2 separate regions of the Homo sapiens genome follow, and region 1 is linked to region 2. Evidence: fine-mapped expression QTL. A gene starts in region 2. The other region holds a variant in brackets. All regions are shown on one strand. Distances are from middle to middle.

Region 1 (15,467 bases), 150 kb before region 2:
TGCACTCCAGCCTGGGCAACAGAGCAAGACACCTTCACCTTCTCAAAAAAAAAAAAAGTTGTGTTAACATGTAATGGTTTCATGATATCATTTTAAATAAATTAATAAACATGTAAACATTTTCTCTGTTTTAATTTCTCACATGGTAAATATTAATGGTGTGAACCAAAAAGTGACTGAGGCATCTCAATCAATTTAGAGGTTTATCTTGCCAAGGTTGAGGACACGCCCGGGGAAAAAGAGACACAAGTCACAGTACGATCTGTGTCCTGTGCTTTTTCCAAAGAGGAAAGAGGCAGCAGGAGGGGAGGGAGGAAAGGGGAAAAAAGCGGGCAGGAGGGTAGGCAGGGCGGCAAGTGGTGACATTGTTGTGAGGCTGTGATTAGCAGCTCAGTGACTCTACATTTTATATGTGAAAAGGGGTCGGGGGAGTCAACTATGCATTGTCTCGGGCTTAGTAGATCTACATTTTACATAACTAAGCCTGTGAAATTACAGCTGTCCGTTTGGGAAAGGAAGGCAGTTTTTGTGGTTCCCAAGCTTAACTTTCCCTTTGACATAATGAGTTTGGGGTCCCAAGATTTTATTTTCCTTTCATAATAGATATAACCAACATGAACAAAATTCTTTAGAATCCTCAAAAATACTGAAGAGTGAAAAGACGTCATGAGACCAAAAGGTTTGAGACCCTTTGCTCTGTGACAGCTAGCCACCCTGGGACAGGCCGTTTCAATCTGGAAACACACATAGTACCTCAATTATGGGAAATTCTCTCTCTCTGTCTCTTTTTTTTTTTCTTTTGAGATGGAGTCTCGCTCTGTCACCCAGGCTGGAGTGCAGTGGCGCGATCTGGGCTCACTGCGACCTCCACCTCCCGCGTTCAAGTGATTCTCCCACCTCAGCCTCCTGAGTAGCTGGGATTACAGATGTGCACCACCACATCTAACTAATTTTTGTATTTTTAGTAGAGACGGGGTTTCACCATGTTGGCCAGGCTGGTCTCGAACTCCTGACCTCAAGTAATCCTCCCACCTTGGCCTCCCAAAGTGCTGGGATTACAGGCGTGAGCACGGCACCCGGTCCCTTTCACTTTACACTTTCCATTACTGTCATTTTGCTCTACTTCCTGGAGATTTCTTCAACTCTATTTCCAACCCTTATATTGAGTTTCTCACTTCTGCTATCATATGTTTCGTTTTTCAAGGCTTTAACATTGCTCTCTGGAATTTTTTTCCCCCTTTTATTCCTGAGGCATGCTGTTCTTGCTTTATGGATGTAATGTCTTCTCTAATATCTCTGAGAATATTAATGCAGAATGTACATTTCCTCTGATTTGTTATTGTTGTTTTCATCTCTGCTTACCGTGTTACCTTTATTTCTCTAATATCTGCTGATTATTGGTTTTCTCCTTATATAGAAGAGTCAGGCCCTAGAAAACTGATTGGCAGTAGTAGGCATTGAGTGGGGCTTGTGCACAGTTTCAGTGTCATAGTGAGTGGTCATTTCCTTTAGAACCTCCTTCTCCACTCTGCTCAATGTCAATGTCAATGTGTTTATTATTTTCTCTTGAGGTGTCTGCCAATCTCCTGCCTGCAGGTATACTCTGGCTGCTGGCATTCTAGATCCTTCCTAGAGAAGAAGAGCAGTGCCTACATATTCAGTATATAAACTTCTCTGTAATCATTCTGCTTTTCGGATGATAATCTGACTCCTAACTGCCTGGTGCTCCCCAGTCTAGAGACACTCTATTATCTATCATCTGCTGGTGTGGGAGAAGGGCAGCACCATCCGGGTTGAGTTGAGGAAGGGATCTAGGGTTCAGCCACTTCTTTCTTTAAAGTAATTTTTTTAAATTGTGATTTTAAAAAACAAAACTTACCATTTAACCATTTTTAAGCGTATGTCAGTAGCATTAAGTACATTCATAATGTTGTATACCCATTGCCACTATCTACTTCAGACCTTTTTTTTTTTGAGATGGAGTCTCCTTCTGTTGCCCAGGCTGGAGTGCAGTGGTGCAATCTCGGCTCACTGCAAGACACTCCATCTCCCAGATTCAAGCAGTTCTCCTGCCTCAGTCTCCTAAGTAGCTGGAATTACAGGCACCCACCACCATGCCCGGCTAATTTTTGTATTTTTAGTAGAGACAGGGTTTCACCATGTTGGCCAGGCTGGTCTCGAACTCCTGACCTCAAGTGATCCACCCACCTTGGCATCCCAAAATGCTGGGATTATAGGCATGAGCCACCGCCCCCAGTACTTTTTTTTTTTTTTGTAAGACAGGATCTCTAATGCCAGGTGTGGTGGCTTGTGCCTGTAATCCCAGCAGTTTAGGAGGCTGAGTCGGGCGGATTAAGAGGTCAGGAGTTCGAGACCAGCCTGGCCAACAAGGTGAAACCCCGTCTCTATTAAAAATACAAAAATTAGCCGGGTGTGGTGGCAGGCGCCTGTAATCCTGGCTACTCAGGAGGCTGAGGCAGGAGAATTGCTTGAACCTGGGAGGGGGAGGCTGCAGTGAGCCAAGATCACGCCACTGCATTCCAGCCTGGTGACAGAGCAAGACTCCATCTCAAAAAAAAAAAATTCTTGGCTGGGCACGGTGGCTCACACCTGTAATCCCAGCACTTTGGGAGGCCAAGGCAAGAGGGTTGCTTGAGAGACCAGCCTGAGACCCTTGTCTCTACAGAAAAATTTAAAAATTAGCCTGGCATGGTGGCTCACACCTGTAGTCCCAGCTACTCGGGAGGCTGAGGTGGAAGGATTACCTGAACCCAGGCGACTGAGTCTGCAGTGAGCCATGATCGCACTACTACACTCTAGCCTGGGTGACAGAGTGAGATCCTGTCTCAAAAAAAATTAAAAACAAAACCAACATTCTTAGCTCACAAGCTGCACAAACACTAGCAGTGGGCTAGATTTGGCCATGAGCCAACCCCTCTACCCTAGACTATTGGCAAAGATCAAGAAGTATGATAGCAGAGGAAAAACAGACACTTGAACTCCTCTTGGTGGGATGTCACTGGCACAACAAGGAGTGGGAGTAGACAGTGGTTGGCATGGCTCAATGCAGTGGGAACGGTGCCCCCTCCCTCACCAAGTCCAGAACAGTGGCAAGACCTCAGTGGGGAGCAAGTACAGAGTGCACCCAGTGAGGCTGAACCCTAAGAATTAGGCACCAGTCAGCTCGGCGTGGTGGCTCACTTCTGTAATCCCAGCACTTTGGGAGGCTGAGGCGAGCAGATCATGAGGTCAGGAGATCGAGACAATCCTGGCCAACATGGTGAAACCCCATCTCTACTAAAAATACAAAACTTAGCTGGGTGTTGTTGTGCGTGCCTGTAGTCCCCACTACTAGGGAGGCTGAGGCAGGAGAATTGCTTGAACCCAGGAGGTGGAGGTTGCAGTGAGCTGAGATCGTGCCTCTGCACTCCAGCCTGGCAACAGAGCGAGACTCCATCTCAAAAAAATAAATAAAGGCCGGGCACGGTGGCTCGCCTGTAATCCCAGCACTTTGGGAGGCTGAGGCGGGCAGATCACGAGGTCAGGAGATTGAGACCATCCTGGCTGACACGGTGAAACCTTGTCTCTACTAAAAATACAAAAAATTAGCCAGGCGTGTTGGGGGGCGCCTGTAGTCCCAGCTACTCAGGAGGCTGAGGTAGGAGAATGGTGTAAGTAAACCCGGGAGGCGGAGCTTGCAGTGAGCCTAGATGGCACCACTGCACTCCAGCCTGGGCGACAGAGTGAGACTCTGTCTCAAAAAAATAAAAATAAAAATAAAAATAAATAAATAAATAAATAAGAAAAAGAATTAGGCACCAGTCTTGACTAATGTCCTTGAGTCCTATCTCAGCTGCCCCTTCTAGGGCCTTGTGAGTGTGGGCAGTGACAGACCCTCAGTGGTGGGCCAAAAGGGACACAAAGCCAAAGCTCTGCTCCAAGCAAGACCTGGGTCATTTCTCAGCCAGAGGAGGGGAGGGGACCCCAACGGGGTCATGCACAGCATAACGACGATTTGGTCAACAGTGGACTGCATATATGACAGTGGTCGCATAAGATCATAATACTGTATTTTTACTGAACCTTCTCTATGTTTAGATATGTTTACATGAACAGATATTAGCTGTTGTGGTACAACTGCCTACAGTATTCAGCACAGTAACATGCTGTGCAGGTTTGTAGCCTAGGCGTGTAGTAGGCTATACCATCTGGGGTTGTGTAAGTACAGTCTGTGATGTTCACACAATGATAAAATAGGACTTACTTCTCAGAACATATTACCATTGTTAAGTGCTGCATGACTGTAATTACTTGGCAGAAGGGAATTCAGATTCAGATTGATGTTTCTTGCACAAAGGTGGTATTTGGAAGAGAAATTTTTTTTTTTTTGAGATGGAGTCTTGCTCTGTCTTCCAGGCATGGGAGAGTGCAGTGGAGTGATCTTGGCTCACTGCAACCTCCTCCTCTCAGGTTCAAGCGATTCTCCTGCCTCAGCCTCCCAAGTACCTAGGACTCCAGGCACACGCCACCACTCCCAGCTAATTTTTTTTTTGAGACAGAGTCTTGCTCTGTCACCCAGGCTGGAGTGCAGTGGCACGATCACGGCTCACTGCAAGTTCCACCTCCTGGATTCACCCCATTCTCCTGCCTCAGCCTCCCAAGTAGCTGGGACTACAGGCACCTGCCACTACACCCGGCTAATTTTTTTTTTTTTTTTTTTTTTTTTGAGACAGAGTCTCGCTCTGTCACCCAGGCTGGAGTGCAGTGGTGCAATCTCGGCTCACTGCAAGCTCTGCCTCCCTGGTTCACGCCATTCTCCTGCCTCAGCCTCCCGGGTTTTTTTTTTTTTTTTTTTTTGTATTTTTAGTAGAGACAGGGTTTCATCATGTTAGCCAGGATGGTCTCGATCTCCTGACCTCATGATCTGCCCGCCTTGGCCTCCCAAAGTGCTGGGATTACAGGCGTGAGCCACCGCGCCTGGCCACTTCTGGCTAATTTTTTTTGTATTTTTAGTAGAGTCAGGGTTTCACCATGTTGGCCAGGCTGGTCTCGAACTCCTGACCTCAAATGATCCACCTGCCTTGGCCTCCCAAAGTGCTGGAATTACAGGTGTGAGCAACTGCGCCTGATGTGTTTGTTTGTTTGTTTGTTTGTTTTGTTTGTTTTTGAGACCAGGGTCTCGCTCTGTCACCCAGACTGGAGTGCAATGGTGCAATCTCGGCTCACTGCAGCCTCTGCCTCCCGGGTTCAAGCAATTCTCATTCCTCAGCCACCCAAGTAGCTGGGATTATAGGCACATGCCACCATGCCTGGCTGATTTTTGTGTTATTAGTATTAATTTTTTTGGAGAGGGAGTCTTGCTCTGTTGCCCAGGCTGGTGTGATCTCGGCTCACTGCAACCTCCACCTCCTGGGTTCAAGCAATCCTCCTGCCTCAGCCTCCTGAGTAGCTGGGACTACAGGTGCACGCCACCACTCCCAGCTAATTTTTTGTATTTTTTTTTAGCAGAGACAGGGTTTCACCGTGTTGCCCAGGCTGGTCTCAAACTCCTGAGCTTAGGCAATTTGCCAGCCTCGGCCTCCCAAAGTGCTAGGATTACAAGCATGAGCCACCACGCCAGGCCGTGATTTTTGTATTTTTAGCAGAGACAGGTTTTTGCCATGTTGGCCAGGCTGGTCTTGAACTCCTGGCCTCCAGCGATCCACCTGCCTTGGCCTCCCAAAGTGCTGGGACTACAGGCATGAGTAACTGTGCCTGGTCCTGGGGCAAAAATTTATACCCACATTGCAAGGTTTTTTTTTAAAAAACAATTGTAGTTATGCAGACTTTCTGAACTAATCTGGAGGGGGTCCACCTGCCCAGAGCTCTCCATCTCACTCTCAGGCGATGGGGGAGGCAAAGTTAGAACCCTGCTGTGAGGGCGACGGTGTACGCAGCCCTGGGGTAGTAAGCTCTCTGGTGAAGCCTCAGTGATGGGATAGGAAGGTGGCTTTTGTGAATGTATCTTTGAAGTCATTCTGTCATCATTTTGACAAGTAAAAAGAGGCAAGATGTTTTGCCAGAGGTGCAGGAACCTGAAGCTGGCCTGCTGTTGAACCTCTGTGCAGGAGGGAGTCAGGCAGATGACAGGAATGACAGGACAGGCTGGTGGCCAGCCGTGAACCCCAGGGAGGAGAAGGAAGGGAGATCAGGTGAGGCTGAGGCTCTCTATGTTGCCCAGGCTAGTCTCGAACTCCGGGGCTCAAGCAATCCTTCCACCTCAGCATCCCTAAATGCTGGGATTACAGGCATGAGTCCCCACACCCGGCCTATCACCTTTAAAATTATTTTATGTTATGTTATTATGTTGTTATGTTGCCCAGCCTGGGAAACATAGGAAGATCCCATCTCTACAGAATATTTAAAAATTAACCAGGAGTGGGCCAGGCGCGGTGGCTCACGCCTGTAATCCCAGCACTTTAGGAGGCTGAGGCGGGCGGATCACAAGGTCAGGAGATCGAGACCATCCTGGCTAACACGATGAAACCCCGTCTCTACTAAAAATACAAAAAATTAGCCGGGCGTGGTGGCGGGCGCCTGTAGTCCCAGCTACTTGGGAGGCTGAGGCAGGAGAATGGCGTGAACCCGGGAGGCAGAGCTTGCAGTGAGCCAAGATCACGCCACTGCACTCCAGCCTGGGCGATAGAGTGAAACTCCGTCTCAAAAAAAAAAAAAAAAAAAAAAATTAACCAGGAGTGGTGACATGCACCTGTTGGCCCAGCTACTCGGGAGGCTGAGGTGGGAGGATCCCTTGAGCCCAGGAGTTCAAGGCTGCAAGGAGCTATGGTCATGCCACTGCACTTCAGCCTGGGCAACAGAGTGAGATGCTGTCTCAAAAAAACAAACAAAAAAAGAAGTTTAAAAATAATTTAAAAAGAAAAGACTCGGCCAGGCGTGGTGGCTCACGCCTGTAATCCCAGCACTTTGGGAGGCCCAGGTGGGCGGATCACGAGGTCAAGCGATTGAGACCATCCTGGCCAACATGGTGAAACCCCATCTCTACTAAAAATACAAAAATTATCCGGGTGTGTTGGAGCACGCCTTTAGTCCCAGCTACTTGGGAGGCTGAGACGGGAGAATCACCTGAACCCAGGAGGTGGAGGTTGCAGTGAGCCAAGATCGCCCTACTGCAGT[C/T]CAGCCTGGCGACAGAGCGAGACTCCATCTCAAAAAAAAAAAAAAAAGGCTGAGTATGGTAGCGCGGTGTCTCAAGCCTGTAATCCCAGCACTTAGGTAGGCTGAGGCGGGGAGATCATGAGGTCAGGAGTTCAAGACCAGCCCGACCAACATGGTGAAATACTGTCTCTACTAAAAATACAAAAATTAGCTGGGTATTGTGGCACACGCTTGTAATCTCAGCTACTCAGGAGGAGTAGCCTCATTTGAACCCAAGAGGCGGAGCTTGCAGTGAGCCGAGATTGTGCCACTGCACTCCAGCCTGGGTGACAGAGCAAGACTCCGGCTCAAAAAAAAAAAAAAGAGAGTGAAAAGACAAGACAATCCACAGGATGGGAAAAAATATTTGCAAATCAAACAACTCAGTGCAAAAGTGGGTAAAGAGCCAAGTGTGGTAGTACACACCTGTAGTCCTAGCTACTTGGGAGGCTGAGGTGGGAGGATTGCTTGAGCCCAGGAGTTTGAGACCAGCCTGGGCAATATAGCAAGACCCCATTTCTACAAAAAAAAACTGTGTAAAATAAATATTTATCCAAATAATATACTCAAATGGGCTGGGCACTGTGGCTCACACCTGTAATCCCAGCACTTTGCAGGGGCTGAAGCAGGTGGAGCTCTTGAGCCTCAGAATGGGAGATGAGCCTAGGCAACATAGCGAGACCATGTCTTACAAAAAAATACAAAAATTAGCCAGGTGTGGTGGTACATGCCTGTGATCCCAGCTACTTTGGAGGCTAAGATGGGAGGATTGCTTGAGTCCAAGAGGTTGAGGCTGCAGTGAGCCATGATCATGTCACTGCACTGCAGCCTGAGTGACAGAGCAAGACCCTGTCTCAAAAAAAAAAATCATTAAAATTAAAAAATAAAATTAGCCAGGTATGGTGGCACGAGCCTGTGGTCCTAGCTACTTGGAAGGCTGAGGCGGGAGGATCGCTTGAGCTCAGGAGTTGGAGGTTACAGTGAACTGTGATTGCACCATTGCACACCAGACCAAGACGCTGACTCAAAAAAAAAATTGTTTTTAATTGAAAGACAGTAAATGCACGCCCCCTTGTGGGTGCATGTTTACGCTTGCTCTCCTTTTGGGACTTCCTGGGAACTTCTCACTTGGTCTTCTCAGTTCACGGGGGTTATAGCCCTACAGCTCTGTTCTTGCTCCGATCTATTGATTAGTTCCTTTCTCAGGAAACCAACCATCAGGCCTCCCAGGTAGTATCAAGGAACTGAAACTTTACAGATCACTGCATCTGGACAATATGTTACCAGACCCCATACCCATCATAACTGCCTAATCATGCTGGGTGCAGTGGCTCACACCTGTAATCCTAGCACTTTGGGAGACTGAGGCAGGCGGATCACCTGAGGTCAGGAGTTTGAGACCAGCCTGGCCAACATGGCAAAACCCCATCTCTCCTAAAAGTACAAAAATTAGCCAGGCATGGTGGCATGCCTGTAATCCCAGCTACTTGAGAGGCTGAGGCACAAGAATCACTTGAACCCAGGAGGCAGAGGTTTCAGTGAGCCAAGATCGCGCCACTGCACTGCAGCCTGGGTGACAGAGTAAGAATGTGTCTCTAAATAAATAAATAAATAACTGCCTAACCAGCCACCTGCTTCCTATTGACCAACTCCTCTTCCTTGCCCTTCCCTAATTCCTGTTTTCCCATACAAGATCACATTTCTAGCCTGCTATATAAACCCTTAAAATCTTTTTTTTTTTTTTGAGACAGAGTTTCGCTCTTGTTGCCCAGGCTACAGTGCAGTGGCATGATCTTGGCTCACTGCAACCTCTGCTTCCCAGGTTCAGGCAATTCTCCCACCTCAGCCTCCTGAGTAGCTGGGATTACAGGCACCTGCCACCATGTCTGGCTAATTTTTTGTATTTTTAGTAGAGATGGGGTTTCATCATGCTGGCCAGGCTGGTCTCGAACCCCTGACCTCAGGGGATCTGCCCACCTCGGCCTCCCAAAGTGCTGGGATTACAGGCGTGAGCCACTGCGCCCGGCCTTTTTTTTTTTTTTTTTTTTTTTTTTTTTTTTTGATACAAAGTCTGGCTCTGTCACTGAGGCTGGAGTGCAGTGGCACGATCTTGGCTCACTGCAACCTCTGCCTCCTGGGTTCAGTGATTCTCCTGCATCAGCCTCCTGAGTAGCTGGGATTATCAGCACACACCATCACGCCTGGTTGATTTTTGTATTTTTAGTACAGACGGGGTTTTGCCATGTTGGCCAGGCTGGTCTCAAACTCCTGAGCTCGTGATCTGCCCCCCCTCCGCCTCCCAAAGTGCTGGGATTACAGGCATGAGCCACCACACCTGGCCTAAACCCCTAATTTCGTTCAGTCAAAGAGACGGATTTGAGACTGATCTCTCATCTCAGCTGCAATACATGAATAAAGCCTTCTTTCCTGGCAATACTCGTTTCAGTGATTGGCTTTCTGTGTGGCGAGCAGCAGGACCTAGACCAAACCCCTAGGTCATTTCAGTCACAGCATAAACACTGACTATGTTCAGGCTATGGACTCTATAATTTTCATTTGAGCTTTTAGATTATTACAAATTAGGAATTGTACTTGTGTGTATGTGTGATTTCTGGGTAGCTAGAAAGGGTGAGAAGGGTTGGCATTTTGAAAGTACATTAGAAATAAACCTATGGCTTTCTAGATTTCCAGTGAGAGCCAGTTGTTGTCATTATGTGGAAACTTAGCAAGGAAACACAGGTGATTTTGTAAGGTTTGGAGGTTGGGGGCCTTGGAAGCTCTACAAAGGCCCTGGGGTGAGCCCCTAGGAGTACAGGGCCGTGGTGTAATGAGGGCTACCTAAATTAAAGGAAAAACTAACAACTCCATTGCCTCTTACAATTCAACAAATCTGGAGTTTTAGATAAGTAAATTCAGAGACAAGAGGGGGCAGGCGGAGTGAAAAATGATGTCACCTGCCACTCTCAGATTTCCTGCAAGAAATTCCAGTGGAGAAGTGAATCCTGGATCAGTAAATGAGTCACTGGCTTTCTAAGCCAAGAAAGATGAAAAGCAGATTCCAGGAACTAAGGAAGGATGAATCTTGGGGAAAGTGTTTAGTTTTAGTGTGAAACTGTCAAGCCGCTTGCTCCGGTGGAAACTCAGGGAGAAAAACAACAGTGAGAAAGACTAGCGAAATAGCAAGGAACCAGACGGCTTGCCTGAGAGAGTCTGTGCCTCCGGGCAATTTATTAATAGAAGACTGAGATGCACCTACTCAGCAAAAAAAAAAAAAAAAACAACCAAAAAACAAAAAACTGGGCAGCTCCAGAGAGGAAGACAATATCCCAGTGCCCAAGGCCCCCTGCCATTCATAATCCAACAGAGAGTCATTGAGCATCCATCCAGTTCCTATGGAAGGCAGTGCACATGGATTGGTGAATGAGGCACCACCATCCCTGGCCCCACAGAGCTCACAGCCATTGAGCAAGTCATTGCACTTGTGTTAAGTGAGAAGGAGGAAGGTTTGGGATGGGGGTCCTGGAAGGCTTCTCCAACACCTACGGGAGGATCGTTCAGATATAAAGTTCAAGCTGAGGCTGGGCACGGTGGCTTATATCTGTAATCCCAACACTCTGGGAGGTTGAGGCGGGAGGATTGCTTGAGCGCAGTAGTTCAAGACTAGCCTGGGCAAAATAGTGAGACCTTGTCTTTACAAAAAAATTTAAAAAAAGAAATTAGCTGGGCATGCTGGCACACACTTATAGTCCTAGCTACTCAGGAAGCTGAGGCAAGATCACGTGAACCCAGGAGTTAAAAGTTGCAGTGAGCCATGATCATGACACTGCACTCCAGCCTGGGTGAAAGAGTGAGACCTTTACTCAAATAATAAGGCCGGGCACAGTGGCTCATGGCTGTAATCTCAACACTTTGGGAGGCCAAGGCGGGTGGATTGCTTAAGCTCAGGAGTTCAAGATCAGCCTGGGCAACATGGTGAAACCTCGTTTGTGTATATATATTGCTTGGGTTCCTGGGTTCAAGCGACTCTCCTGCCTCAACCTCCCTAGTAGCTGGGGTTATAGGCATGCATCACCATGCCCAACTAATTTTTGTATTTTTAGTAGAGTTGATGGGGTTTCGCCGTGTTGGCCAGGCTGGTCTCAAACTCCTGATCTCAGGTGATCCGCCAGCCTCAGCCTTCCAAAGTGCTGGGATTACAGGCATGAGCCACCACACCCACCCGTCTGTATATATTTAAAAATTTTTTAATTAAAAATAATAATAATTAATTAATTAAGGTCAGGCTGAATTTTTGACAGAGGCCTGGGCTAGAGAGAACAGGGCTGCTCCGGAGACCTGAAAAGAGAAGCTGTTTGGGGAGCAGAGGTACAAGAAAAGTCTAGATGAGTTCTTTCTATTCTATTTTAGGTTATTTGTTTGATTAGCAAATTTGGTGGGGCAGAGACGGGCCATCTCCCAAGTGACAGGCAGGCTTGTTTGGCACTTTTTGTTTATTTACAAAGCAATTCAATTTCTTGGTGTTCAGGAGCTCCCTGAGAAACGGGCCCAGGCCCACCTCTGGCACAGGCAGAGGGCACAGCATTAGCAAAGGCCCAAGGGAGGGACCCCACAGAGCAGCCTCCGAGAAGAGCCAGGAGTCCCTCGGGCTGGGGAAGTGAGAGGGCATTGAGGCCTGAAGGAAGACTGGGCTGATCTTCAGACTTCAGTCTATTGGGGGGCAGGGTGAGTCCTGGAGAGACGGTGCCCCACGCAGCCAAGGCAGGGTGAGGGAGGTCACACCTCAGCACATTCTCTTCTGTGTGACGTTGGAGATCATTAACCTGTGGACCCTAACAGCTGCCACCACCACCTTCAGGAATTCAGGTCCTCCCTGCCTGGCACGTTGGCCAGCACTCCCACGGCCCAGCCCTGTTGAAGAAGGAGGCAGTTCATTAGATGTGCTGACATTGGCTCTCTTGGCTTCCTGGGACAGCCCTCACCAGCATCCTGGGCTCTCAAGAGCCTGGGCTGGTGGCTGCCATCCCCCCAGGACAGGAGCCCACCAAGTCCCTTCTGGTTGAGGACCCTTGGGCCCTCAAGGATCCCAACTCTGCTCATGATGGCATCTGGGGGAGCGCGGGAGCCCTGGAGGGGAAGGTAAGAGTCCTGGGTCCCAGCCCAGCCTGGCCACTGGCTCACTGTGGCGACCCTCAAGCATGGCCTTGCTCCCTCTGGAACTCAGTGACCTCTGAGATCTGGGACCTCTGAGTCTGGGAATTGGGCAGGGTGACAGAGTCAGGTGACTCAACCTGCACCCGGTCTTGGGGTGTGGAACCCTGAGCAGAGCAGGTGGCGCTCTTGGAAGGGGAGGCAGACAAGGGCAGAGAAGGGGGCTGCACAGGGCTTTGTAAGAGAGAAGGAGAGGTTCCGGACCCAGCCTGCGGTCCAGGAAACTGTCTCAAAGGAAGTGGGTCTCGGCTGAGACCTCAAGGGTGAGCAGCAGTTAGGCGAAGGAAAGAGGAAAAGGCATTCAACTGTACGGCCCAGGCCAGGCGCAGTGGCTCATGCCTGTAATCCCAGTAATTTGGGAGGCTGAGGTGGGTGGATCACCTGAGGTCAGGAGTTTGAGACCAGCCTGGACAACACGATGAAACCCGGCCTCTACTAAAAATGCACTACTACGCGTGCTGATGCACATTTGTAGTGCCAGCTACTTGGGAGTCTGAGGCATGAGAATTGCTTGAACCTGGGAGGCGGAGGTTGCAGTGAGTGGAGATTGTGCCACTGCACTCCAGCCTGGGCAACAGAGAAAGACTCTGTTTCAAAAAAAAAAAAAAAACACTTCAGGGCCCACCCTGTGCAAAGATGGAGAGGTAGGGAAGGCAGGGTGTATCCAGGGACACAAAGAAGTTCAGTCCAGCTGGAACTACGCCCTCCTAAGGAGGAACTGGCCAGGGGTGAGGGGCCAGTGGGGAAGTGAGGAGAGACAGGTCCCACGGGCAGAGGTCATCCAGCTGCTGCGTGGACAATGAACAAGGACACCGAGTGATGTGTATCCTTGGCAAGTGATAGTCTAGCCAAGGGCAGGAAAGTGGGCATAGGGAAGAGGGGACTCACTTGGTGGCTGGAGGGTGTCAGGGAAGAGGTCTGGGGAAAGATTACATGGGGACCCAGGAGGGAGGGCAGTTCTGAAGGGAGGAGATGGGGCTGACTTTACACAATGGATTTGGAGGTGTCCGAAGGTCATCCTAAGTGGGGGAAGTGGAGCAAGAGATGTGGGGGATGAGACTCAAGTCATCACTGTGGGAACAAAAAGGAGGCTCTGGCCAGTGCGGTGGCTCACGCCTGTAATCCCAGCACTGTGGGAGGCCGAGGCAGATGGATCACCTGAGGTCAGGAGCTTGAGACCAGCCTGGCCAACATGGTGAAACCCTGTCTCTACTAAAAATACAAAAATTAGCCGGGTGTGGTGGCGGGCACCTGTAATCCCAGCTACTCGGGAGGCTGAGGCAGAAGAATTGCTTGAACCTGGGAGGCAGAGGTTGCAGTGAGCCGAGATGGCGCCATTGAACTCCAGCCTGGGTCACAAGAGCAAAACTCCGTCTCAAAAAAAAAAAAAAAAAAAAAAAAGACTCTGAGGGCCGAGTGCAGTGGCTCATGCCTGTGATCCCAGCACTTTGGGAGGCTGAGGTTAGCAGATCACTTGAGCTCAGGAGTTCAAGACCAGCCTGGACAACATGGTGAAACCCTGTCTGTACCAAAAATACAAAAAAATTTAGCCGGGCATGGTTGTGTGTGCCTGTGGTCCCAGCTACTCAGGACGCTGAGGTGGGAGGATCACTTGAGCCTGGGAGGCAGAAGTTGCAGTGAGCTGAGATCGCGCCACTGCACTCCAACCTGGTGACAGTGAGACCCCATCTCAAAAAAAAAAAAGAAAAGAAAAGGAAGGAAGGAAGGGATGGAAAAGAGAGAAGAGAAGATAAGAGAAGAGAAGAGAAGAGAAGAGAAAAAAGAAAAGAGGCCCTGAAGTTGTACCCTGGAGAGAAGTATCAAGAATGAGGTGTGGCTAGGTGCTGTGGGTCACGCCTGTAATCCTAGCACTTTGGGAGGCCGAGGCAGGCAGATCATTAGGTCAAGAGTTTGAGAGCAGACTGACCAACATGGTGAAACCCCGTCTCTACTAAAAATACAAAAATTAGCTGGGCATGGGGTGTGCACCTGTAATCCCAGCTACTCAGGAGGCTGAGGCAGGAGAATCGCTTAAACCTAGGAAGCAGAGGTGGCAGTGAGCCGAGATAGTGCCACTGCACTACAGCCTAGGCGACAGAGTGAGACTCCATCTCAAAAAAAAAGAAAAAAAAAAATGAGGTAAGGGGGTTGAGCTCCTGGAGGAGCTCACTGAGGGGCATGAAGGGAGATAGCCAGAGAAGCAGCTAGAAATCCTTCTCTTGGATCACAGAAGCCAAAGGACGCTTCAGAAGATGGGGAGGACCAGCTGTGCCCAACACACCTGGAAAGGTCAAAGGAGGAGAGGACTGAGAAGTGGAGGGACAGGGAGCATTTCTCCCTCTTGAAGAGGCTTTGGCATATGGAGGGGGTTTTAATGGTAGTGGTGGGGTTCCCAGGATCCGTGATCAGGTCTGAGTGTCAGCAGAGCTGTCACACAGAACCGAACAGGTTGTGCACTGCACTCTACAGTGACTGTTCTTGAATCCAGGACTGGCCGCCAGGGGCACCCCCTTGAGCTGGCGGTATTTTGCCAAGTCCGTAACTGCAGTGTAGACACTTCCCAGACGGTGGCGCCAAAGACCAACTTTACTTCTTAGGAGCAGAGTCGGGTTCCGCCTGGGGATTCTCAGCCCCAGGTCGTCATCCGATGGGACGGGGGAATTTCCAGATGCCTGGTGGCCGGGTCTCTCCTACCACCACACCCTCCAAATCTCTGTCAGAGCAGTTCACCTAGCGTTAGCAACTCACAGAAATAAACTATGCACCACACACTGCAGCCTTCCTTTGTCAGGGGGCCTGGGCTGAAAGGGTCCCAGGGGAGCAGTTCATCCCATGAGCTGGGAGAGGCGAAGACGTCCCTCCCACTTGTCCCTTAGGAGAAAGGAGTCAGGAAGGAAGGAAGGACGCCCAGCCCAGACCGCGAGACACACAGTCAATCGCCCCACCCCTTGCCCAAACCAGCAGAGCACCGCCCAGCTCACAGCTCCCCCTGGAGGCCGAGGCTGGACTAGCGGGGACAATGACAGCGACACTGGCCAGCCTCAGGCGGTGTCCCCAGGGAAGCGATT
Region 2 (15,467 bases):
CGGTTCAGCACATATTTATTATGACTCAGTTTCCTCATCTACACAGTGCACGGTCTTGTAAGGCCAGTGGAAATAAGAGCACACACACAGCGCTAAATAAATGGTACTTCCTTCGCCCTCCCCTCGGATTGGCGGAGCCCTGCTCCCCAGACTCCGGGGGCGCGCGGACCTCAGCGTGATGACGCAAGAGCGGAGGACGGCTCCTCTCCATCCACGGCTCCGTTTCCTAGGAAACGTGGACTCCGCGTTCCACTCTGCGTCGCTGCCCCCTTGACGTCACGCTCCGGATGGGAAGGCGGGGCGTGTGCTACCGCCAGGGGCGGGGCGGCGCGGGCGGGCCGGCCGGGCTGTGCACCTGCGCCTCGGCGGGCCGCCTGGGGCACCGTCCCCGGCCCGCCCGGCCCCGCCATGGCCCGGCCGCAGAGGACTCCGGCGCGCAGTCCCGATAGCATCGTCGAGGTGAAGAGCAAAGTAAGGGCTCCTCCGGCCTCGGCCCTAGGCGCTCCCAATTCCCTCTTTCTCCCCTTCCCAGCTCCTTGGTCCCCGCCACCTCTTCCCTCTATCCTCCAAGTCCCATTCTGCTTTTCTGCTCGCCTTCCCCCATCCGTCTTCCTTCCTCCACTGCTGGTCTCCAGCTCTCTGTGGCCTGAGTACCTGGAGGGCGGTAAGAAGACCTTGGACAGCGTCCCTGGTACTGGAGCTGAGGTCTGGGCTTAAGGCTGCCGCAAAAGCGGCAGCCGCATCTTTCCCATTCCTGCCAGCCTGCGGTGAGAAAGGGGCGCAGGCTGTCCTGACTCCTCCTCTCCCCCAACCCCGACTTCCAGTTTGACGCCGAGTTCCGACGCTTCGCGCTGCCTCGCGCTTCGGTGAGCGGCTTCCAGGAGTTCTCGCGGTTGCTGCGGGCGGTGCACCAGATCCCGGGCCTGGACGTGCTACTTGGCTATACGGATGCTCATGGCGACCTGCTGCCCCTCACCAACGACGACAGCCTGCACCGGGCCCTGGCCAGCGGGCCCCCGCCACTGCGCCTACTGGTGCAGAAGCGGGGTGAGGAGGGGTACAGTGGGCAGCCTCTGTGGGGTAAGGTGTCTGTGGGGCAGGTCTACAAGGGTTAGTCCATGCCCAGGGTACCCAAGCGTCACCCTCTGCAGTCCCTGCCCTTGGCTTGACCTCTAAGTGGTAGGAAATAGCTACAGTGCCCCCTGTAAACAGCCCAAGTCGGGGAGCAGGTCTCTGATCTCAACATCCCCCCTCTTCTGCAGCAGAAGCTGACTCCAGCGGCCTGGCTTTTGCCTCCAACTCTCTGCAGCGGCGCAAGAAAGGGCTCTTGCTGCGGCCAGTGGCACCCCTGCGCACCCGGCCACCCTTGCTAATCAGCCTGCCCCAAGATTTCCGCCAGGTTTCCTCAGTCATAGACGTGGACCTACTGCCTGAGACCCACCGACGGGTGCGGCTGCACAAGCATGGTTCAGACCGCCCCCTGGGCTTCTACATCCGAGATGGCATGAGCGTGCGTGTGGCTCCCCAGGGCCTGGAGCGGGTTCCAGGAATCTTCATCTCCCGCCTGGTACGTGGGGGTCTGGCTGAGAGTACAGGGCTGCTGGCGGTCAGTGATGAGATCCTCGAGGTCAATGGCATTGAAGTAGCCGGGAAGACCTTGGACCAAGTGACGGACATGATGGTTGCCAACAGCCATAACCTCATTGTCACTGTCAAGCCCGCCAACCAGCGCAATAACGTGGTGCGAGGGGCATCTGGGCGTTTGACAGGTCCTCCCTCTGCAGGGCCTGGGCCTGCTGAGCCTGATAGTGACGATGACAGCAGTGACCTGGTCATTGAGAACCGCCAGCCTCCCAGTTCCAATGGGCTGTCTCAGGGGCCCCCGTGCTGGGACCTGCACCCTGGCTGCCGACATCCTGGTACCCGCAGCTCTCTGCCCTCCCTGGATGACCAGGAGCAGGCCAGTTCTGGCTGGGGGAGTCGCATTCGAGGAGATGGTAGTGGCTTCAGCCTCTGACAGTCAGGATGAAGCCCCATGCCACTCCACACTGCTGGGACATGGCAGGGACTTCACAGTGGGGGTTTTTAGCTGGCTCACAGGGCTCCCTCAGCCTGGGGAACATTAAAGGTTTTCTACAAATACAGTCATGGTCCTTGTGTGTCCCAGTTCCAGCCTCCTCCCTGGTCTCACCAGCTTGCCTTCTGCTCTGGACTAAGGCAGGAGTGACATTGGGGAGAACTTCCTGCAATCAAGCAGCAGGAGGGCCACCAGGCTTGGCATTTTTAGGGTAAGAAAAGCTCTTATGGAAACAAATCCTGTGTACAAAATGTTTAATTTTGACAAAGCAGTTAAAAGGCTAGGGTGGCCCTTCTGCAGCCACTGGTGACTGGGAAGAGTGCTCTAGGGACACTGGCCACCCCCCTGCTCCTGTCTTCAGACCTCTGCTCTGGGATTGGGTCCAACCCTGTCCTTTGCAGCCATGTGGCGATCCTCAGCATGGAGCTCCTTGCCACTGTCCCCCAAAGGGGCTCAGTCGTCCATCTTCACGAAGACTTTGGGCCGAGAAAAGATCTTGATGGCCTCCTCTACCTGCACCAGCTTCCGGTCCAGCTCAGCACGGTGGCTCTGGGCTCTCAGTGAGTCTGCCCCAGCAGGCAGCAGTACCAGCTCACGCAGCAGCTGGCTCTGGCCTACAGGGGGCCCGGGAACAGTGAGAACAGTGAGTGTTGGGCAGGGGTGCCCGGTCCCCAGTGGGGCCCCCCTCCAGCCTCCCTGCCCAGGTACTCACTCTGGAGCAGCTTGGTCAGTGTTTCCAGCCGCTGGTTCTCAGGCATGCGCGTGTGGCCTGGGGGCATGGCAGGGTCCGGCTGGCTCTGCTTGCGGGCCTCGGCCTCCCGCCGCCACAGGTCCCTGCGCTCCAACAAGCTGTGGGTACACAGGCTCAGAGTTGATGACCCGAGGGCAGAGGTTGGTTCCCACCCTCCACAGGTGTCCTTCACCCTGAGTGTCGGGCAGTGAGACCTACTAATGTGGCACATGGCCCTTCTGCGTGGCATTGTAGTGCTCCTGGGCCTGCCGCTGCTGCTCTAGCACTTGTGCCAGGACCTGCAGTGAGCAGGAATGCCTCCGGGGGGCTCTCTTGGCAGCTCGTGCATTGTGACGAATGAAGTCCACCCCCAGGCCTGGCTCCTGCAGGACACAGCAAGCGTGGGTGGGGGCAGACAGCATTATGTTGTGTCCCTGAACACCCCCCCCACACCAGGAGCCCTGCCCAACCACCATCTAGCCCCCATACATCCTCTCACCTTAGCTTCGGGACCTGGTGGGGTTGGCTGGGGACTAGATACATGGGGTGGTGGGAGGCCAGGGCCGCAGCGGGAGTGCGCCCGCAGGAAGTGGGCAGACTCTGTCCCAGAGGCAGGGCCAGGCTCCTGGAGGGCAGGGCACAGCAGAGAGAGCAGGCAGGCTGAGGTCTGGGGCTCAAGCTGCAAGACCCTGGCCATCTTGGCCCTTCTGACCTTTGCATCCATGTCCCTCGGGCCCTCTTCCCTCTTCAAGGGACACTTGTCCTCATCAGCACACAAATGTGTGAGTATGTCAGATTTTTAAGAAAACAACAAACCATCTCTCCTTCCACCTCAGTACTGGCCCAGCTACCACTCTCTTTCCTCCTTCCTAGCCAAGCTTCCTGGCTCTAGCCCTGCAAGGCTCCTAACAGCTGGCCTCCAAGTCCTCAAATCCAGGCGGTCAATTCCTTGGTCTCGTTGTCCTCAACCTGATCGTCAATAACTCCTAGGTCTCACTCCTGAGATCCAGGCCTGAATTTCCATCTGCTTCCTGGACACACTCCCACCCCCTGGGAACCCCACAGATGCTTCAGCTACAACACATTTGTGTGACCTTGCCTTTCCTCTCACTCCTGCTCCTCCTACTGAGTCCCTGAGACAGAGCCCCCCACCATACCCCTGCCCTTCCCACTGTCCTCAGAAATAAGGGCTGAAAAGTGGCTTTTGTGGCCCCTGACGTGGGTCCAGCTGACTTCTTGGCCTAACTTCACGCCCTTCTTTCCTCACAGTGAACTGTACCTAGCATCTCCACTGCTGCGTGCCCTGTGGTCTGTGAGGTTCCATCTTTTGGGAATGTTCTCTTCTGCTGTCCCTTTGACTAATTGCTACTTGCCCTCAGGATCAGCCCCACCATCACTACTTCTGAGAAGCCCCCCAGCCTCGCCCTGCAGCAGAGCCAGGGTCTCTTAGTCCTCTGTTACCTCTGTGACTTCCCTCCCACCCCAGAACTCAGATCAGGGTACAGTTGCCTGTTGGCCAACAAAATGGATAATACTTCTGGCTCCCTGAAGCAGGTACCTGGAGCTGGGCCTTGACCCGGGACTCCACCTTGTCGTACTTGGGTGAGCGCCACAGAGCTTTCAGGGGCCTGGGCTGGCCCTGCTCCCGGCTGCGCTCCTGTTCTCTGAAGCGCTTCTGAATCTCCCTGATCCGCCTCAGGTTCTCCTTCTCATGGTCCTTAGGGTCCTTCCCTGGAGAAAAGATGCCCCCAGGTTCTGCCCTACATGGGGCCCACACAGTCCAACTTCCACTAGTTCACACACAGGCCTGCCCCCTGCCTCCTACAGAAAGAGCTCCCTGACCTCTCCAACTACCTTAGACCCTACACACACTCTCCCTCATCACCGTGTTCCCTTCCTCATGTAGTAAGTATCACAGGATGATTTTCTCCATTATTATTATTATTATTATTATTTGAGACAGGGTCTCACTCTGTCACCCAGGCTGGAGTACAGTGGCATGATCATAGCTCACTGTAGCCTCAACCTCCCCGGCTACCTCAGCCTGCCGAGTAGCTGGGATTACAGACACACTCCACCATGCCAGCCTGATTTTTGTATTTTTTGTAGAGATGGGGTTTCACCATGTTGGCCAGGCTGGTCTTCAACTCCTGGACTCAAGTGATCTGCCCGCCTGGGCCTCCCAAAGTGCTGGGATTCCAGGAGTGAGCCACTGCGCCCAGGTGATTTCCTCCATTATTATAGTGAAGTACACCATTGAAGTACACCATAGATCATCTCATATATGACATTCATCTCTTGATCTTTGTATCCCACCTTGACTCAGTGATGGCTCATGCTTATCTTCAGCCCTGTGTTCTAGCATCTATATGGCCTGGCACACAGTAGGCACTCAACAAACAAATTTAATGGGTAACAAATGCATAAAGCAGAGCTAGGGCTTCGTGGGAACTACCTCATTCAGTTCACCTCCTTCGAGAAGGTAGCATATTTCTCCCCCTTTTATAGTTGGGGAAACTGAGACTCAAGAGATGCAAAGCCTGGGCCCACGTCAGGGTGGAAAGAGCAGCTGCTTTTGATCTCTTTCCACCCCGCACTGCCTCTCTGTCCCTTCTTCCATTCCTGGGACTTACTCTTGAGAGAGGCCCCAGGACCTAGGGAGATCCCCTCGAGTTGCAACAGCACGTCCCCGACGCCGCGCTGGCCGCGCTCCAGGATCTCTCCGGCACCGGGACCGATGCAGGGGCCACGGGGAGCGGTGGTGTCCAGGGCCCGGTCGGAAGTCAGCAAGTCCAGCTTCAGCGCGTTTCCCTCGAGGCGCCCTTGAGCTGTGGGGCGGAGCCGGGCGGAGTCCGGGGCTCAGAGGTGGAGCCAGGGCCGACCCCTGAGCCTCGCACCACCGCCAAGCCCCCGGACTCACCCGAGGTCGGCCGCCTGTAGTTGTCAGGACAGAGCGTCGGGTCTGGGGGGATGGGCCCCGAGATGCGGGACGGGCCCTCGCACATGCCGCCGGCGCCGCCCAGCAACGGTGCCCCGAGGCCTGCAGGGCTGTTTACCTCCCTCCCCGGGCCCCCTTCCCCAACCCCGGGCCCCCTCCCTCGCCCGGCACCCTGACCCTGGCGTGCCCGCCACTCCCGGGCCCCTGCCGGTCCCCGCCTGGGCCCCGGCCTCGCTCGCCACCTCCGCGACCTCTGCTCCCAGCCCACTTCTCGGTCCCGCTCGCGGCCTCTCCCCCGCGGCACTCGGGCAGGGGCTCACTCGAGAGGTTTTGCCGCCAGCCGCTGCCACCCGACGGGACTTGTTGTTGCCGGGCAACCGTGGCTTCCGTCCCCGGGGTCAGGGCCCACTGACCCCGGCGCAAAGCGTCCTGGGGCTTGTAGTTTCGGCCGAGGGTGGGCTCCGCGGTCGCCGGTTTCTCTTCCCAGCTCTGCCCTCGCTTGCTGGCCGGTCTCCGGGGTCAGCGCGGGGCCACCATCCAGCCCCTTGGGGCCCGCCCCAAGCAGCTGTCGAGGACGCACTCAGCCTGCGCAGCCATGGCCTCGGCAGGGGCGGAGAGGCGGCCGGGGGTCCAGGAGGCGACGGTCGTGGGGCAGGGACAGCTCACGGAGGAGCCCGGCAGCGCTCAGACCTCCGAGGTGACCGTCAGGCTGTTTAACCTTCAAACACAGGGCCGCAGCGCTCTGAGAGGTGGAACTGAGCGCCCCGACCCGCTAACTGCCAGGCTGGGCCCTCCAGGCGGGGAGGGGCACAGGCTGGTGTCCTTATTCCCGTTTCGGTGTCTAACGTTAGGTGTTCAGTGACGGATCCCTATGTCCTTTGCCCGGCCATGGTGACCGATGGCCTGTGTGTCATCTCTAGTGTCCAGTGGCGGGAGACCAGTTCCTGGTGCCTGCCCATGAGGCCCGCGGAACCCAGAGTGAAGACCAGCGCCCAGCAGGCGCAGCTTCGGAGTCGGAGCTCCAGGAGGAAGGACCCAAGCTGGGGGAGGAGCGGCCCAAGCCGCATGCCGGGGCGCTAGAGGAGAGAGGCCCCAGGCCCGTGGTCTCCATTGTGAGGCCCCGTCATGGTCCAAAGAGAAAGCCTGTCAAGTGAGGGGGCTCTCGGGGGGAAGGAGCTGCAGCCCCGGGGTTGGGGCACACACCACAGTAGGATTCCTAAATCCTGCACTCCTGCAGGGAGGATTCTCGTCCCCAGCCACTACCATCACTCTCCTCCCGTTCCTCAAGAGCCCCCGTGTAGGGAGCAGCAGGAGAGTGGGAGCTTCAGGGCTTGTAGGGGCCTGGGCTCACTGGCCTCTAAGCCTCTTGGGCCTGGGGTCTCATTGACCAGGAACGGGACAGGCGTCGAGCCCTGGGGCTGTGGGCAGGCTGGGCTATTCCCTGGGCCAGGGAATGGGAGCCAGGGCTGGAGCCTGGCTCAAGTCTCTTGTCCCTGGCTCAGGTCTCTCAGCCTCCCGGGCCTTCGTGCCCATCTTAAGGCTGAAGCTGAGCTGCCACCCAAGCTGCCGCTGCAGGAGGAGGAGCCAGAGGACAGCCAGAGTGAGCCCTCACCATCTGCCAAACAGCACAAAAAAGCCAAGAAGCGCAAGAGCCTGGGGGCTCCCGTGCTCCACGCTGTGGCCAGCATGGTGTCTGCACCCTTAGAGACATTGAGGCTGGAGCGTGAGTGGCAGTCCCTGGACTGTTCCTTCTCCCCCTGCCTGTGGGGCCCGACATGGCACAACCTGGCGCTCTAGCCTCTGCCCTGCCCTGGGTCTTTGCAGGAAAGGCCCAGCGCCTGCGGCCGCTGTACCAGTACGTCAACTATTGCAACCCTGAGCTGAACCAGGCAGGGAAGGGGGACGGGGAGGCTGAGGTGGAGGCAGAGGCAGAGCTGGCCCCGGTTCCCGAGGAGGGAGGTGTGGAGCAACTGCAGGCCTTGCTGCCCTTGGCAGGTGAGCTGGGCCCAGGCCTCGCTTTGCCCTGTCCCAGTCCACTAGTGACCCCCACCCATGCCCTGGCTCCCCTCGGAGAGGAGGCTGGAGAGGAGCCTGGGGGCTTGCCCAGCTTGGGGGTGAGTGACCACAAGGCCGAGGTGGATAAGTCAACCCAGGTGGACATCGACAAGATGCTGAGTGTCTGCACTGCTCCACTTGTCCCCCCGCTCTCTCCTCAGTACAAGTGACTGTCCCGCCCCACTGGTGGCTCCCCTCCTTCCACGCCTGAATTTGGCTTCAGGCTTCCTGTGGGCCTAGGCCCTCTGGTGGCGGGGGCAAATTTGGCACCTGCCCCCACTTGGGACTTTGGTCTTGCTGAAAATAAATATTTTTCTTTTTCAAAGACTTTGTGATTCCCCAGATAGGTTGCCTGAAATGGGTAAGAGGATGGAGGACTCAACAGTGCAGGGTTTGAGGCCTGAATGGTCATCTGCATCACCTGAGACTTTGACAATGACAGATTCCTTTGTGCCACCCCATGCCTCACTGAATCAGGGTGGACCTGGTGCTGTGTGTTTAGGTGAATCTGAGGGTCAGGCAGCTAACTGGGTGATGAAGAGGGAAGTGAGAAGGAGGAACTTGGGGCAGAGAAAAGAAAGGGTCTGTTGGGTCATGGGAAGCAGGTGTTTGGCCCTGCTCTTCTGTCTCCTGGGGAAGGGCCTGCATTTGGTCTCACCTTGAGGGGATCAAAACTTGGGATCCTCCTAGGAGGTAGCACAGAGTTCTTTTGCCTGTCACAACAGTGACAGCTTTGGGATGTTTCCTACTCATTGCCAGACCATAGCTGGACCGGACCTTGTCTGTGGAGTAGCCTCTGGTCACAGGTGACAGGGCATCAGTGATGTTTTCCTGGCAGGCAGGGGTGGACAGGGGCAGTAAGTGCATCTGGGACCCTGAGGCCAAGCCACTGGATGACAGCTGTGTCCAACCGGCAAGGATCTCTGGGAAGAGCCAGCCAGTGTTGGCCATTTTGGAAACTGCACATCCTGGGCCTCCTGTGTGTTCCTTGGACACCACAAACAGACACAGGGAATTTTAAGTTCATGGAAATTTCCCCTTCCTCCAACTGGCTTTTCCTCCTGTATCTCATCTGCACAATTGTTTAAGCTAGAATCTTGGGTGTCACCCCAGACCCCATCCTGTTCTTTGCTCCCTGATTCCTACAAGCTAAGCAGACATTGAGGCCAGTGATCCTACCCTTTCAGGCTGAGAACCTCTCGGACCCCACAGTCAGCACCGTCGCCTGGACCACTGTCATCTCCAGGTGACAGCCTCACTGGTCACCCTGCCTGTCATCCCTTGGCCCACGGATCCATCCAGTGGCCCTGTGACACACACACCTGAGCCCCTGATGGTGTCACTCCCCCTTGGGATTCCCCTCCTCTTGCCCCAGCTACCTTAGAATTCAGTGGCTTCCGGTAATTCCCTGAGCAGTTACACCTTTTCCTCCCTTCACTCTGTGCATGTGGGGCTTTCTCTGCCTAAAATGCCTTTATTCCCACCTCTCCCCCTGGCTAGTGCACGCACACCTTTGAAAACTTGGGATTCTGCTTCCTGGGGAGCCAGACAGCACCCCATGTTGCCCTGCATTGCAGCCCCTGCGCATTGCTATCATGTGGGTTATAACTGTCATCGGGATTAGACCGTGAGCTCCCTAAGGGCACATCTCATTGCATCACATCGACCTAGCCAGAGGGCCCCTTAAAAGGCACCAAGGTGATGAGACTGAAGTGAGGGGTGGAGGAAGCTGCAGAGAGGGACAGGCCAGAATCTGAAATGCTGAGGCCATCCCGAGGCCACAGTCTAATATGTAGGTTCCCTGGAATATGGCCTGGCAAGGTCACTGGAGGGAGTAGGGTGGGCAGGTTCAGGTGGGAAAAGCAGGGTCCCCTTTCTGGCATCATCCCAGCCTGCTCCCTCCTTTGACAGGGTCACTTGGGTGCTCACTGGCCCCATGACAAGCCATGGGGGTCAGGACTTTTTTTTTTCTTTGAGACAGCATCTCGCTCTGTTGCCCAGGCTGGAGTGCAGTGGCACAATCTTGGCTCACTGCAACCTCTGCCTCCCGGACTCAAGGATTACAAATGTGAGCCACCGTGCCCGGCCAAAAATTTTTTTTGTGGAGATAGGGTCTGTGTTGCTCAGCTTGGTCTCAAACTCCTGACCTCAAGCAATCCTCCCTCCTTGACCCCCCAAAGTGCTAGGATTACAGGCATGAGCCAAAACACCCAGCCAAGATAATTGAGCTTAACCTCCTTGCTTTATGTTTGGGATGGCAGAGGCCTGGAGAGAAGTGGCCTTGCATGAGACCACACCCTGGGATCTAGGAATCCCTGTCTTGAGTTGTGCAGGATCTGCCGACCTGGGGGCTCTCTGGCTAAGGCCGGACCCAAGAAGGCCTCTGTATCTTTGTGCGGTCTCCAGGGCTGGAAGCGTGAACGAGGCCAGCACTGATAAGGAAGAGCTGGTCCTGTCTTCTCACAGGTGAGGCAGGAATTAGAAATCGTGGGAGAACTAGTCTGCAATTCCTGAGGCCTATTACCCAATGGACTTGTCTAAGCAGGGTGGGTAGTAGGAGCTGCAGAAAGGACCAAGTCCCTACTGCTCCTAGAAGCTCGCTGTAAAGAGGAAATGCTACATTATTTAGGGAGACGTGTAGCTGGGCGTGGTGGTCTGTGTCTGTAGTCCCAGATATTTGGGAGGCTGAAGCAGGAGGATCGCTTGAGCCCGGGAGTTCAAGACCAGCCTGGGCAACATTTTTCCCTGTCTCAAGAAGTAAAAATGATGCAGCCATAAAAAAAAGAATGAAATCGCGTCCTTTGCAGCAACATGGAAACGGCTGAGACCATTATCCTAAGAAATTAACACAGGAACAGGAAAGCAAATAGCACACGTTCTCACAAGTGGGAGCTACACATTGGGTACACATGGACACAAACATGGGAAACACAAACATGAGACTATGAGAGGGGGCAGAGAGGGGGTGGGGTGATTGTTGAAAAAACCTATTTACTATGTTCACTACCTGGGTGATGAGACCAATCGTCCCCCAAACCTCAGCGTCACACAGTATACCCATGTAACAAACTTGCACATGTACCCCCCGAATGTAAAATAAAAGTTGAAATTATATATTCAAAACAAGTGGCCAGGTGCAGTGGTTCATGCCTGTAATCCTAGCACCTTGGGAGGCTGAGGGGGGCACGGATCACTTAGGCCAGAAGTTCAAGACCAGCCTGGACTATGTGGTGAAACCCCGCCTCTACTAAAAATACAAAAATTAGGCTGGGGGCGGTGGCTCATGCCTATAATCCCAGCACTTTGGGAGGCCGAGGTGGGTGGATCACGAGGTCAGGAGTTCGAAACCAGCCAGCCTGGCCAACATGGTGAAACCCTATCTCTACTAAAAATACAAAAAAATTAGCTGGGCACTGGTGGCATGTGCCTGTAATCCCAGCTACCTGGGAGGCTGAGGCAGGGGAATTGCTTGAACCAGGGAGGTGGAGGTTGCAGTGAGCTGAGATTGCGCCACTCCATTCCAGCCTAGGCAACGAGAGCAAAACTCCATCTCAAAAAGAAACAAACAAACAAAATTAGCCAGGTGTGGTGGTGGGCGCCTGCAGTCCCAGCTACTTGGGAGGCTGAGGCAAGAGAATTGCTTGAACCGGGGAGGTGGAGGTGGCTGTGAACCAAGGTGACGACACTGCACTCCGGCCTGGGTGACAGAGTGAGACTCTGTCAAGAAAAGAAATAAATAAAGAAAGGAGGGAGGGAAGGAAGGGAGGGAGGGAGGGAGGGAAAGAGAAAAAAGAGAGAAAAAAAGGAAAAGAAAGAAAGAAGACAAGAAAAGAAAAAAGAAAAGAAAAGGAGAGGGAGAGAGGGAGGGAGGGAGGGATGGAGGGACATGCAACCTCAGCTCAACTGAGGACCAAGGCTGTGGAACCACAGGTTGGGAGGTGGCTACTTTGCTGAAGTCAGAAGTGGTGACCGGGCAGTCCTCCAGCTGACTCCTGAGAGAGAGAGGTGGTGCCTTCCAGGCAGAGGACATGCCAGGGACAAAGCCCTGCTAGTATGGAAGCTGCCACCTCTGCAGGAGGGCTCTTAGTGTGGCTGGAGAGGAGGGCATGGCCATATGGAAACCAGGTTGGTCAAGTCCGGGGGTGAGGAGGAAGGGTGTGGATAGGGAGGGATCTTGGCGTGACATTCAGGAGAGGCTGCTTGGCCAGCAGGGTGATGGGCAGAACAGGAAAGGAAGTGGCTGCCATCGTCTAGGTGAAAACAGTCCTGGATTTGGCTGGAGGTTGAAGAATAAGCGACAGGTATTTGGGAAGTTCTCTTCTGGTTGCTGTATCTGACGAGCCAAGCTAACTGCATTTTTACTGTCCTGGAAAAACTTTATTTTGACCTGAGGAAGAGCTGGTAACATCCTGAGATTTGGAAACAGGTCCTGGGAGATGCTACTGCCTTCTTCCAGGAGGGGGTGCTGCCGGACAAGTCTAGAACCAGTGTGGGTTCAGTCACCCATGGAGACCAGAACCCTGTGGGCTCCCTTGGCCACAGGCATCTGGGCACATCTGTCTTCCCCATCCCCAGTGTGGGACTGACCAGCTCTGATGCCCAGGATAACTCGATGGTAAAGACGTCTGAGGGAAGGGGCCATGCACCACTCTGGCCGTGAATCTAGGCTCTGGGGATTCCCTCAGAGGAACCGGGGTCCTCATTAAAGCAGCTCTGCATTCAGCCCACTGCAGTACCCTCCCCCCAGCACATTCTGGGAACCCGAGTGCCATTCTGGGTTGGCCACATGGCCCTTTCTTATGTGGGAGCATCTAAGTCAGGCTTGTGCTTTCCTGGTCAATTCCCACATTTCAGAGTGACCTCGACATCCTAGCAACACATGGGAGGACTGAGCTGAGCTAACTGTCCCAGGGACAAGGGGGCAGCCTCCCCTTTAACCTTCGGTGTCCTGCCTGGTGGTGGGTGCTATCTGCATTTCACCTCCTAGTTCAGGCCAGGCCGAGGCTCCTGCCACAGGGAGGGGCAATGCCGGGCCCTCAGGTCTGAAGATTCCCAAATGCTGGGAGGAAGCGTGGTTCAAGGTCAGGCTCTGTGGTTAGATGGTCCTGACCAGGCTCCTGGCTCCATCATGTACAATCTACAGGAGGCAAGTAGCTTTGCCCTCTGTGCCTCCATTTTATGATCTGAATGATGAGAATATTTACCGTCAGAGAGTGGTTTGGAGGTTAAGGGAAATAATAACATACACGTTTGCCCTGAGGGTCAGCATGCAGTAGGCACACTCCAACCCTATCCCTTGTTATTCCCTCTCACAAGGACATCTGAATCCAGGAAATTACAGGAAAACAAGCCTGGTGACGTCTAGAAGCGGTGCCAAGAGGAAGAGGAAGCCCTCCCTGGGCTTTTCTGGCAAGGAGCCCAGGGCAGGGAAGAGGGCGGAAGGTTAGAGAAGGGAACAGAACTTGGTCCAGGCTGAACGATCCTGGCAGGCTGGTCAAACAAGCAAAGGGGAACGCATGTCTTTTCTCAACACCGTGCCCCCCCGCCCCCACCCCCCGCCGCCTCTGGCAGAGCTGGGTAGAAGGCTGGCCCTGTGCAGAGCACAGTCAAGAGCATGGTGGGTGATTGGCCCTCGGGTCCAGCCACAGCTGCTCCATGGGGCACGCCTGGAGCTCTTCCTCCTCCTCCTCACCCTGTGCCACCTCCCTGAAACCACTCCTCCCCGCCACCTCAAGAGCACTCTGGCAGCCAACACCGTGACATTAAGAACAGAACCCCTCCTAACCTCCACCCCAGTGAGGCCCCAAACTCTCCCGCTATCTGCTGAGACGGCAGGCCCAGCAGCAGCCCATTAGGAAGTCCTGAGTCCTGTTCTCTGAGGAAATCTTTTCTTCTGAGGCTCCTGGGATTTGGCTATGAGGGAACAGGCAGGAGACGAGGGCTGGCAGGGGCAGCGGCCCGTGTGGCACAGTTGGCGGTGATGACCCACGCTGGCTCCGAGCTGCTGTGGAGCAATGAGTAGAGAAAAACCCCCTACCAGCCAGAAACAAGCCTTTCAGTATTAAAGAAACCCAACCTACCAAACAAAAACCACATGCCATGTCCTATTTTCTGAATTATTTATTAACATTTCTCAGATGTTCTAAAGCCCTCCCTTGCCTCCTCTCTGCCAAACCAGGGCCCTCTGTCCTACTTCAAAAGCCCAAGAGCTCACTTAATAAAGCAAGCCCCAGTCCCCACCTGGGAAGGGCCTGGTCACATGGGAGGGCAGGTGAGGGTCCCTGAGGGACAGCTTGTTGCCCTCACTGTTCCTGAGATGCCCCAGCCCAAGAACGAAACAAAACTTCTCATCATTTCTCCTCAGGCCTCAGCCGAGCTGGCCCCTCTTGTGCTTTCTCACCCTGTTAGGACTGCGGATCAGGCTGAAGGGCTCCCCAGGGTGAGCCTTTCCTGGTCCGACTCACTGGCATCACCATGAGGAGGCCTGGCGGCAGCTCTGCCCTGTGCACACCGTGGTAACCTGGCAACAGGAACATTTGCCACCCTGCAAGTCTGAGGAGCAGATGAGCCACTGGAGGGGGCGAAGTCCCAGAGCCACCTCTGGCTTCACCCAGACTCATTAAATGAAAGACACTGTCTCTGCTAGGGCCAAGTCCCTGTCATGTCTGGCTCCTGTTCCCCTCCCTGGTCCCTCTGCCCTGTGGCAAGGAGCCCAGGTGCAGGCTCATAGGTTGTTCCGCTGAAGTGCCTCACACAGGTTCTGGTTGGTGTCGGGCTCCTCCGTCAGCACCTCCACAGCCTCCCACTCCCCGGATCGGCTCGACCTCTTGATGGCATCCACCACGCTCTGCATGTACAGCCCATCCTCGAAGGAGGCGGCCATGGAGACAGGGGTGCGGTCCCAGGTGCGGCGGTCGCCCTGCCCCTGGAAGGACTGGCGCAAGGCCTGCACCATGTAGACCATGCCCTTCAGGTACAGCAGCGGGACATCCTGGGGCCCCTGCTCAGGCAGTCCTGCGCCCACTGCCAGCGAGTCCCTCAAGAGCAGCTCCTCTTGCGTGGCAGAGTTCTTCTGCCCATAGAGGTCGGCTCCCCGGGCGACGAGGCGTCCTGCAGAGCCTACCACCATGACTTCATGCACAAAGGCGCCTGGCATGTTGAAGTTGAGTGTCACTGTGCTACACACACCCCCACCCATGAGCATCTGGAAGAAACAGAAGTCATCGCTAGTGACGTGCCGGATGCCACGGATGGCAGCGTTCTGCCTCACGAATGTCTTGAGCAGCCCGTGCACCTTCTCGGCTCTCCGGCCGGTCAGGTGGGTCAGCAGGTCCACAATGTAGGTCCCCATGGTGTGCAAGCCCCCGCCGCCCATGAGCTCATCACAGATCCAGCCATAGCTGGGGCTCAGCAGGCTGCCTGAGTAGATGCGGGCATCACAGATCATCACCGCTCCCACATAGTGTTCCGAAATCAGCTGTTTCATGCGCACGAAGGCAGGCAGGAAGCGCAGCACGTTCCCTACCAGGCTCATGAGCTGCGGGTAGTAGCGCGAGGCTGTCACCATCCGGAAGGCATCCACCGATGTTGCTGCCTTCTCGCAAACCACATTCTTCCCAATACCTAACAACAGGACACAACAGGAAATCTCAAAGTTTCAAGGGGGA

The links.
Region 1: its variant is fine-mapped to the expression of ENKD1 in putamen (GTEx, PIP 0.97).

Annotation. Positions count from the first base shown.
Region 1 is chr16:67,506,287-67,521,753 of GRCh38, forward strand. ATP6V0D1-DT (ATP6V0D1 divergent transcript) reads left to right here. Exons shown (of 4, transcript NR_184227.1): 4 at 1-117. It overlaps LOC100505942 (a long non-coding RNA gene), which reads right to left. Exons shown (of 2, transcript NR_104656.1): 2 at 11,420-12,099. It also overlaps a transcript of RIPOR1 not described here. Among named protein-coding and RNA genes, the nearest start is that of RIPOR1, 15 kb to the right of the region's middle. RefSeq lists silencers at 8,046-8,233, 8,366-8,535 and enhancers at 11,856-12,025, 12,156-12,245, 12,256-12,305, 12,566-12,625, 15,045-15,304. The variant C/T (reference allele first, on the strand shown) is at 7,174.
Region 2 is chr16:67,660,631-67,676,097 of GRCh38, forward strand. ENKD1 (enkurin domain containing 1) reads right to left here and starts at 6,120. Exons shown (of 7, transcript NM_032140.3): 1 at 5,728-6,120; 2 at 5,441-5,635; 3 at 4,366-4,538; 4 at 3,307-3,432; 5 at 3,027-3,190; 6 at 2,790-2,926; 7 at 2,315-2,691. The coding sequence starts at 5,812. The coding sequence ends at 2,531. It overlaps C16orf86 (chromosome 16 open reading frame 86), which reads left to right and starts at 6,184. Exons shown (of 4, transcript NM_001012984.3): 1 at 6,184-6,442; 2 at 6,666-6,895; 3 at 7,248-7,468; 4 at 7,570-8,125. The coding sequence starts at 6,341. The coding sequence ends at 7,970. PARD6A (par-6 family cell polarity regulator alpha) reads left to right here and starts at 330. Exons shown (of 3, transcript NM_001037281.2): 1 at 330-471; 2 at 825-1,047; 3 at 1,266-2,144. The coding sequence starts at 409. The coding sequence ends at 2,017. GFOD2 (Gfo/Idh/MocA-like oxidoreductase domain containing 2) reads right to left here. Exons shown (of 3, transcript NM_030819.4): 3 at 13,906-15,423. The coding sequence ends at 14,525. RefSeq lists silencers at 117-596, 5,692-5,961, 6,302-6,351, 6,372-6,421, 6,502-6,551 and an enhancer at 12,462-12,521.